2 separate regions of the Homo sapiens genome follow, and region 2 is linked to region 1. Evidence: fine-mapped expression QTL. Tissue or cell type: monocytes after interferon gamma. Region 1 holds a variant in brackets; the other region holds the start of a gene. All regions are shown on one strand. Distances are between the middles of the regions. Region 1 overlaps SRGN (serglycin). Region 2 holds the start of VPS26A (VPS26 retromer complex component A).

What was found. PIP is the estimated chance that this variant, and not a neighbour inherited with it, causes the effect.
Region 2: it holds the start of VPS26A, and the variant in region 1 is fine-mapped to the expression of VPS26A in monocytes after interferon gamma (Fairfax 2014, PIP 0.95).

What each region holds. Positions count from the first base shown.
Region 1 is chr10:69,094,398-69,099,397 of GRCh38, reverse strand. SRGN (serglycin) reads right to left here. Exons shown (of 3, transcript NM_002727.4): 2 at 2,167-2,314. Among named protein-coding and RNA genes, the nearest start is that of SRGN, 8.8 kb to the right of the region's middle. The variant T/AAAAAT (reference allele first, on the strand shown) is at 1,971.
Region 2 is chr10:69,121,154-69,126,153 of GRCh38, reverse strand. It overlaps VPS26A (VPS26 retromer complex component A), which reads right to left and starts at 1,976. Exons shown (of 9, transcript NM_004896.5): 1 at 1,874-1,976. The coding sequence starts at 1,876. RefSeq lists enhancers at 1,012-1,518, 2,383-2,742 and a silencer at 1,723-2,122.

The DNA.
Region 1 (5,000 bases):
GGAGTTCGAGGCTGCAGTGAGCTATGATCACACCACTGCACTCCATCCTGGGTGACAGAGGAGACCCTGTCTCAAAAAAAAAAAAAAACAAAAGAGAAAGTTGCCAGGATCCCAAAGTGATGTGAAATGTACCTGGTTTGGAGCATGATGATTAACCCTGGCTTTGAGGAGAGTGATTTTCTAGGTTTGAGCCTGGAGATTAAAACTTTTATGATAATCCTTTTCTTAATATGTATATTTTGCTACATCCTACATAGCTTTAGTATTCATTGAATTAATGGTTTCTAATATAATTCAATTTTTTGTTACTTATGAATTTATATCAGGTCTTTTTTGCAAGTTTAAAGCAAGTTTTATGTGATCAAAAGAAGAGATTTGATTTTTGTTTTACAAGTCTTGGCTAATTATTCTTCCTTTCCCTAATTTTTTTTTTCTTTTTTTGAGACAGAGTCTTACTCTGTTGCCTAGGCTGGAGTGCAATGGCATAAATAGGGTTCACTGCAGGCTCAACATAGGCTCAAGAGATTCTCCTACCTCAGCCTCCCGAGTAGCTGGGACCACAGGTGCACATCACTATGCCTAGCTAATTTTTGTATTTTTTGTAGAGACAGGGTCTTGCTGTATGGCCCAGGCTGGTCCCAAACCTCCTGGGCTCAAGGGATCCTCCCACCTCAGCCTCCCAAGGTGCTGGGATTACAGGCATGAGCCTCTGCACCTGGCCATTTTTAAAAATAATTACCAACTACTTGAAGAACATTTTTTTAATATAAAAAATGTATTTGAAATAGAGATAGGGTCTCACTATGTTGCCCAGGCTGGCCTCAAACTCCTGGGCTCAAACAATCCTCCCGCCTCGGCCTCCCAAAGTGCTGGGATTACAGGCATGAGCCACCACACCTGGCAGAAGAACATTTTAATCACCTCCTCCAAAAAAAACCCTCATACCCATTAGCAGTCACTCCTTATTCCTCCCTTTCCCCAGCCCCTGTAACCCACTAATCTACTTTCTGCCTCTAGGGATTTGCCTATTCTGGACATTTCATCTAAATGGAATCATACAATATGTGGCTTTTGGTGTCTGGCCTTCCTTCACTCTGCATAATGTTTCCAAGGTTTATCTATGTTGTAGCATGTATCAGTACTTCATTCTTTTTATGACCCAATAATATTCCTTTGTATGCTTATACCACATTTTGCTTATCCATTCAGTTAATTATTGGATTTTTATATATAGTGTGTTCTGTTTACACAAATAAAACAATGTTCAATCATTTTCAATACCTGTTGATGAAAAGTCCTCAATGCTCCTCTCTACCATCCACAAAAAAAATTTCAAAAACATAGGTGAATCATGTATACTCGCACATGTCATATGCCAGTATATACAGTACACTTTTACCATGTACTGCAGAGTAAGAGCCAAACTACCAAAGCAAGAGCTCGAAGCAAAACACTCTGGACAGCTTGAAGAAAAACACTCCCACATCTGTGCCAAGAGGTTGTGAAATTACAGACACTTTAAAATTAGAGAAAAGGCCGGGTACAGTGGCTCATGCTTGTAATCCCAACACTTTGGGAGGCCAAGGTGGGTGGATCACCTGAGGTCAGGAGTTTGAGACCAGCCTGGCCAAGATGATGAAAGCCCGTCTCTACTAATAATACAAAAAATTAGGCCAGGCGCAGTGGCTCACGCCTGTAATCCCAGCATTTTGGGAGGTCAAGGCGGGCGGATCACTAGGTCAGGAGATCGAGACCATCCTGGCTAATAAGGTGAAACCCCGTCTCTACTAAAAATACAAAAAAATTAGCCGGGCGTGGTGGCGGGTGCCTGTAGTCCCAGCTACTCGGGAGGCTGAGGCGGGAGAATGGCGTGAACCCAGGAGGTGGAGCTTGCAGTGAGCCGAGATTGCGCCACTGCACTCCAGCCTGAGCGACAGACTGAGACTCCGTCTCAAAAAAAAAAAAAAAAA[T/AAAAAT]TAGCTGGGCATGGTGGCAGGCGCCTGAAATCCCAGCTGCTCCAGAGGCTGAAGCAGGAGAATCGCTTGAACCCAGGAGGCGGAGGTTGCAGTGAGCTAAGATTGCGCCATTGCACTCCAGCCTGGGCAAGAAAAGTGAAACTCCGTCTCAAATAAATAAGTAATTAATTAATTAATTAGAGAAAAGTCCACTTACGGAAAAAGGTCAGTCCTCAGACGGGGGATCTTGTTGGATTCACCTGGAAGTAGTTCGAACATTGGTCCTTTTTCTTCAAGGCAGTTTGCAGAATTACTGTCTGGATTGCAGCGCACCCATTGGTACCTGGCTCTCCGCGTAGGATAACCTGCCCGAGGAACCCACATTGTTACTAAGTATCTACTACACAGCTTCTAATCACTCTGTCCTAAGAAGTTTTTATTTTTATTTTTTTTTCGAGACAGGGTCTCAGTCGGCTGCCCAAGCTGGAGTGCAGTACTGTGATCATAGCTCACTGCAACCTTGAACTCCTGGGCTCAAGCCATTCTCCCACCCCAGCCTCTTGAGTAGCTGGGAATACAGGGGCACCACAACGCCCAGCTAGTTTTGTTTTGTTTTTGTTTGTTTGTTTGTTTTTTGGAGAGATGGGGGTCTCACTATGTGCCCAGGCTGGTCTCAAACACCTGGGCTCAAGCAGTCCTCCTGCCTTGGCCTCCCAGTGTGCTGAGATTACAGGAATGAGCAACTGCACCCCACCCGCCCTAAGAAGGTTTTAACTAAATAGATTCTAAATTTGGTAAAAGGCAAAATGTAGACAGATTTTGTGCCCATTCATATAACAGCAGCACCCACTATGTGCCAACATTTTATATAAATTGTCCTTCTTACAACACTCCAAAAAGTAGCAGTTTAAAGTTAGAATAGGCTTTGGAATCAGCTGCCTGGAGTGAAGTCCCAGGTCTGCTGACTAGTTATGGAACCTTAACTTCTCTGAACCCTCACTGTAATATGAAGATACTAATAGTGTCATAAGCCTATCACAAAAATTAAATGAGAAAATACACTTAGAGAATTTAACACAGTGCCAGGCACACAGTAAGCACTTGATAATATTAACTGTTGTTACTTTTGTACTATTATCTCAATTTTACACAAAAGAAAATTGCAGCCACACAGGCGCTAGGATTCCAACCCACATCTGACCCCAAAGCCCACATCTTTTCATAGAGATGAGTCAAATCAGGTTCAGAAAGGGGAAGGAACACACTGTGGAGTACCCGTGGTATCACAGAATTCTAGTTCTTGTGTTTTAGGGCCATACAGTATCCTTAGGAATGAAAAGTAGATAACAATTTGTCCTGTGTCTTTGCACTCAGATTTCACAAGAACAAGTCTCCTCTATTCACAGAGCACCAGGCAGCTTGGAATATCTGAGTCTCAGCTTCTTCTGAATTTCATTTCTATGGAAAAGGCTCCAAATCTGATATTATGAGGTTATATAGGAGATTTATTTATGTATTTATTTTATTTTATTTTATTGAGAGAGAGTCTTGCTGTGTCGCCCAGGCTGGAGTGCACTGTCACGATCTCGGCTCATGGCAACCTCCACCTCCCGGGTTCAAGCAATTTTTCTGCCTCACCCTCTGGAGTAACTGGGATTACAGGCACTCACCACCACGCCCAGCTAATTTTTAGTATTTTTAGTAGAGATGGGGTTTTGCCATGTTGCCCAAGCTGGTCTCAAACTCCTGAGCTCAGGCAATCCACCCACCTTGGCCTCTGAAAATGTGAGGATTACAGGCGTGAGCCACCATGCCCGGCCTATATAGGAGGTTCTTTGTTAGCTAATGAAATAAAATCTTCCTTCCTCAGTTTAGCAAAGACAAAGGCCTGGTGGTGAGAAATACTTCACCGCCCTTCAAAAAGTTCATCTCCTCCCCACTCCAAGCATATACTTTATTCTAATGAGTGCAACTAATAATTACCTAGCAAGAAGGAGCATGTCTAGGATTCTTGAAAGTCAGGAAGGGTAGTTTTAAAGCTCACCACAAAATAATGGAAAACATTCAGATAAATTACAAGGCATCAACTCATAAGAGAATACTAACCAAATGAAGAAAAGTACTTTTTTTTTTTTTTTTTTGAGATGAAGTCTCGCTCTGTTGCCCTGGCTGGGATGCAGTGGCACAATCTCGGCTCACTGCAACCTCTGCCTCCCAGGTTCAAGCGATTCTCCTGCCTCAGCCTCCCGAGTAGCTGGGATGACAGGTGCCCACAATCATATCCAGCTAATTTTTGTATTTTTAGTAGGGATGGGGTTTCACCATGTTGGCCAGGCTGGTCTCGAACTCCTGACCTCAGGTGATCCACCCGCCTCAGTCTCCCAAAGTGCTGGGATTACAGGTGTGAGCCACCACACCCGGCCGAAAGTACTTTTTATGGAAAAGACAATGTGGCATTGTAGAAAAACCTATACTTAAAAATGAGTGAGAGGGTGAGAGGCGGGTAGGCAAAAACTTTTTTTTTTAATAAAATAAAAATAAAAATTAGGTTGGGTGTGGTAGCTCATGCCTGAAATCCCAGCACTTTGGGAGACTGAGGTGGGAGGATCACTTGAGCCCAGGAGTTCAATACAGGCTGGGCAACATAGAGAGACTCCCATTTCTACCAAAAAAGAGAAAAAAGATTTTAAAAATTAGCTGGATGTGGTAGCACACATCTGCAGTCCCAGCTACTTAGGAGGCTGAGGCAGGAAGATTGCTTGAGACTGGGAGGTCACAGTGAGCCAAGATTGCACGGCTGCACTTCAGCCTGGGTGACACAGCGAGACTGTCTCAGAAGAAAAAAGTTTATTTACAAAATTAAAAATAAATAAAAATAACTGAGAAAATCAGAATACCTCTTTGCATGAATAATAGTTTCAATTATATAAACAGACATGGGGGGAAAAATGGAAGGAAATACACAAAAATAACTGGAGGTAGAATCTTTGGTGATTTTTTTTCTCATTTTGTTTTCTAAATTGCTATAATAAACAATATTCCTCTAAAAAC
Region 2 (5,000 bases), 27 kb before region 1:
CTCACTTCTTTTGGTAAAGATATCTTCAAGGGCGCATTTGGAATATTGCGATTTTCAGGATTAACTATTAATATGCAAGTTAAAACTCTTGAGCTTTTAAATAACTGGACTGCAATATATATGACTATAAAAACATGCTAGCAATTGTTTTTATAGTTTTCTAATCTTGGCCTAAACCTCCTATCACTGACTTTAGGTTAATTTAGGATTTTTCATATAATTTCTGAACCCAATATTGAGCATTACCAATTAGCAAAAATACATGGTAGATACATAAAAAGGCAACTTTTTAGTCCCCACTGAAGGAATTTCACTAAGTCCAGTGGATGTAAAGAAATGCAACTCATTGCATTTCTGAGGTGGAAGGCTGACTCTCAAAATTCATTCACTTAGCCCATACACAAGCAATGAAACAGCAAATTTTCATACATATATTACATCTGTGACCATTTCAGTGTTTTAAAGTTTTACAATTTAGTTTCTGTTTGGGTAACTTGAAAATATAAACTGCTCTTGAACATAATTCAAAAAAGCGTATTAAAAGTAATAATTACAAATGTAAGCAAAAAATAGGAGGACCTTTTAAGTTTTCTTTTCAAATGATATTCAATTAAAGAAGCCTGCCCTAACACTGACTAGGCAAGGTCCCCCAATACTTCCTTCTTAGTATCTGTCACAATTCTAATTTCCACGTTAAACAAATAATTTACACAAATAAATGTTTATCTCTCCCTACATTGTAAGCTACGAGAGCAGGTAGGCGCTGTTTCCATTTTACTGGGGTCCCCTAGGCACACCTGAGCAATTATTTGTTGAATGAAAGAAAAAAAGCTCTAAGAATGAACATGAATGTCTGGATTTTGTTTTGTTTTGTTTTGAAAGCAACATCATTACTGAAATTAAAAGTTATTTATTCAAAGTAGCTTTTTAAAAATATACCTGGCTCGGCCTTTTAAGCCAAAAGTCTCAAGCAGTCTATTGAATCAGTGAGCTTTGGGAAGAGCAGGTAGTATTAGGAGAGCATACAGTAGGCGCTAAATGAAGAGAACTGACGACTACTACCAGAAAATGGGTAAAATGAGATCTAACCTAGAGACTGCCGACACCCAGCTAAATACCACAATGCCCAGGCTAGTGCTTCCGCGGACTGTGGTGAGAGCACTGATTCCCCTCCCTCCTCTGCCTCATAGGCCGTTTCAACAACCCAGAGCGTTAAGTTCAGCGAAATAGCTTGCGGACGGAAATGAGAGCCAATGCTTAAAACGGCGGGCACCAAACGGGTGTCTCTGGAGTTAAAGATATCCCCCATTCCAACGTCCTTTTATTTTTCTCTCCCATTTTACAAGTGTCAACAGAAAGCCTGAACTGGGGTCATGAAATCAAAGAATGTCACCATAGTCAGGTTTTAAAATATCAGAGTTTATCAAGTTCGTGACACACTGAGTGCCCAAGTCCCCCGAAGAGTCCGGAGGTGGGGGGCTCCCGGGTCGCCCCACCTGGATGGAAGAGAGGCTGCCCGGGAGGAGAACAGGGACTGGCTACCTAGGAAGGGGAGGCGGCGACCAGCCCCCGCAGAGGCGGGGTCCGAGTCCCCAGCCAGAGCCCCAACAAGCAGTCGAAGAACGCGGGCAGAGGCTCCGACATGGCCAGGAGAGCACGCCGCCGCCCGTAGGTGCTCGGGCCTCGCCGAGACCGGGAAGAGGTGGCGCCGCCAGCTTTTCCCAGACCCAGGGGTGGCCCGACAGGCCTAACCCCGCTCCCCGCCCTGCTCCCCCGTCCCCTCCTCCGGCGACGCCCGGCCCGCGGTTGGCCGGCCCGCCGCGCGCTCCGGGACGAGGGCGGGAGGCGAGCGCGCTGGCCGCCGCGCACTCACCATTGTCAACGCCGCCGCCGCGTCCCCCCTACTCCACTCCTCTTCCCTCAGGAGAACTCCCAGCCCCGGCTCCCTCCGCTCCGGCGCTCCGTCACGTGACCTCGGGCCGCCCCTCACACGTGACCGCTCCCTTCCTCTCCCCCACCCCCGCACCCGTCCCTCTCCCAGCCTCCTGCCCCGCCCTGCTGGCCGCCAGGCACTCCGGGGAGAGGCCGCTTGGAGGCGGGGCCTCAGGCTCCACCCTTCGGAGGGTGGAGAGGGGCGGGCAAATTACGTCGAGTGGGCGGGGCCTGAACAGAGGCGGGTTCGCGGGCTCCTCCTCGCCGTCTCTTCGGTCACCGGACGAGCGGTTCCGTGTCCGGCCTCTTTACCGCACCCAGTTCCTCTTTGTGAAAGTTTGAGCGGCTGGGAAGGAAGGAGGAGAGGAAGGATTCATCTGGAGGCTCTCTCCTTGGCTGGGTCCTTGGGTTGCCGAGGCGAGTGGGAGCCCTACTTCCTTAGGCCTCGCAAGAAGAGATGTGCTCTCTTCGTCCACGGCGAGGCGTTCTGCCACCTTGCCTGAACGCAGTCCCGCTCCACCTCCTTCTGAGTCTGGGTTTTCTTAACTTGGCTTTCTCGCCTCTGAAGAGAAGACCAGTAGAAAAAAATCCTAGGGTACAACTTTCATTGCTTCCCAAAGTCCCCAGATGGCCCCTGAGCGACCCACCCTGAGCCTGGAGGGCTCACAAACCCACCGTTCCGCCCAGCCGTTCTGAGAGGGCAAAGGCGCTCCCCCGAAAGTCCCACGGCGCAGCTGAAGACTACGCTGGCCTGAACTGGATCCTCCTCCCTAGTGTAAGCCTATAGGACCTCCAGATGAGGAAAATACTGTGTGGGATTTCAGAGTATAGTGTTGAAGGGCCACAGTGCACTCTATGCATAACCAAAGCAGAAGAAAAATCCATCCCTGAACGCACTATAATTACCCCACCTTAAAACAGAAGTTTGTGAGGCGAGTCCATGAAACAGGTATCAAAAAAAATTTTTTTATACTTAATCCTCAGTGTGAGCCTCAAATTTAAGAGGATTGAAATCAGAGTATCATCTCTAACCGCAATAGAATTAAAATTAGAAATCAACCCAAACAAGCCAGAAAATTCCGGAAATATTGGAAATTAAGCAACATAATTCCAAATCTCTAGGTCAAAGAAGAGATCAATGGAAATTTAAAAATAAGTTGAGGCCGGGCACGGAGGCTCACACTTGTAATCCCAACACTTTGGGAGGCCAAGGCAGGTGGATCACCTGAGGTCAGACACGAGTATCTCTTGAATCCGGGAAGCGGAGGTTGCAGTGCCCGAGATGGAGCCACTGCACTCCAGCCTGGGCGACAGAGCAAGACTCTGTCTCAAAAATAAAAAATAATAAAAATAAAATAATTTGAAATAAAAGATAATAATACAACATATCAAATTTGTGGAATGCAGTGACACTGTGTAAAAGGAAAATTTGTAGCTTTAAATGCACATATTTGGGCCAGGCATGGTGGCTCACAGTCTATAATTCCAGCACTTTGAGAGGCCGAGGCGGACGGATCACTTGAGGTCAGAAGTTTGAGACCAGCCTGGCCAACATGGCGAAACCCCGTCTCTACTAAAAATACAAAAATCAGCGGGGCATGGTGGTGCACGTCTGTAATCCTAGCTACTCGGTAGGCTGAGGCAGGAGGATCACTTAAACCTAGGAGGCAGAGATTGCAGTGAGCCAAGATTGCGCCACTGCACTCCAGCCTGGTGACAGAGCGAGACTCCATCTCAAAAAAAATAAATAACTATAGTAACACTGATATTGTTGTCTGTTTGAACTGTGAAAAGAAAGCAGCAAAAACAATGCAAATCTTTAATTAATAAAAGTGAAAAATGGTTTTTTTCACTTAGAAGATTTGCCTGTCACCTTGAGAGCTACTCTGGTTCCTACCCACTCTTTTCTGGGACTTAAATATCAACATAACAAAGAGAATAGATGAAAATGCCACACAGGCAAAGAAATACTAGCGAAGCCAGGTATAAATAAGAGGTGGCAAAGAAAGTCACACTAGAAACCAATTTGTACTAATTATTTATTCTACTGATCAAAACCCAATCAATAATTGTGCTATCATAATAAATACAAGAAGCAACAGAATTGTTGAGCTAGTTATTTGTCTGTCTGCCTACCTATCAATCTATTCAGCAAGCCAGAATGTTAGAGCTAGATTGTGAGCAGTACAGTGTTTCACCAGCTGAGAACTGTGGCATCTCTATATTTGCCCTCTGCCAAAAAAAAAAAAAAAAAAAAGGTGGGGTGTGTGAGGAAAATGTGACTAACTTACAGGGATTGACTTTCATCAACAAAAGTACCGAGTTTAGGTCAGAAAGTATTAGATGATAAGATAATCTGAGCTTTTATCAATCAGAAACCAGTTAAGAGAAAAATAGTCATTTGTTCAAATTCACAAAGACTAAAAATTCACATTAATAACTGTGAGAGTGTCAGGGAGCAGCTGTTTGCAGAGTTCACTGGCAAAGTTAAGGGAAGAGAATAAAATACAAATACACAAAAAGGATAAAGAAAGAAAATACAATTTAGGCCGGGCGCAATGGCTCACACCTGTAATCCCAACACTTTGGGAGGCTGAGGTAGGTGGATCACTTCAGCCCAGGAGTTTGAGACCAGCCTGAGCAACATGGTGAGACCTTGTCTCTTGCAAAAGAACAAAAATTAGCTGGGAGTGGTGGCATGTGCCTATTGGACCAGCTGCTCAGGAGGCTGAGGTGGGAGGATAGCTTGAGCCAGGGAGGCAGAGTTTGCAGTGAGCAGAGATTGCACCACTGCACTCCAGCCTGAGCAACAGAGCGAGACCCTGTCTCAAAAAATAAATAATAAATTAATTTAATTTAAAAATAAAATACAATTTAAAGCATGCCAGTGAAGTATAGAAACACTTTTTTCTTTTAACCTCCCAGAGCACATAGAATAGATTTTGCTTAAAAACTTTAGCGAGTGCAGCTGTAATCATGGTAAATATTCTTTTTTTAAAAAATTACAATTATAAAAGCCAAACATTTTTTCACAATATACAGTTTTTTCTTAAATGTACCAATACTTA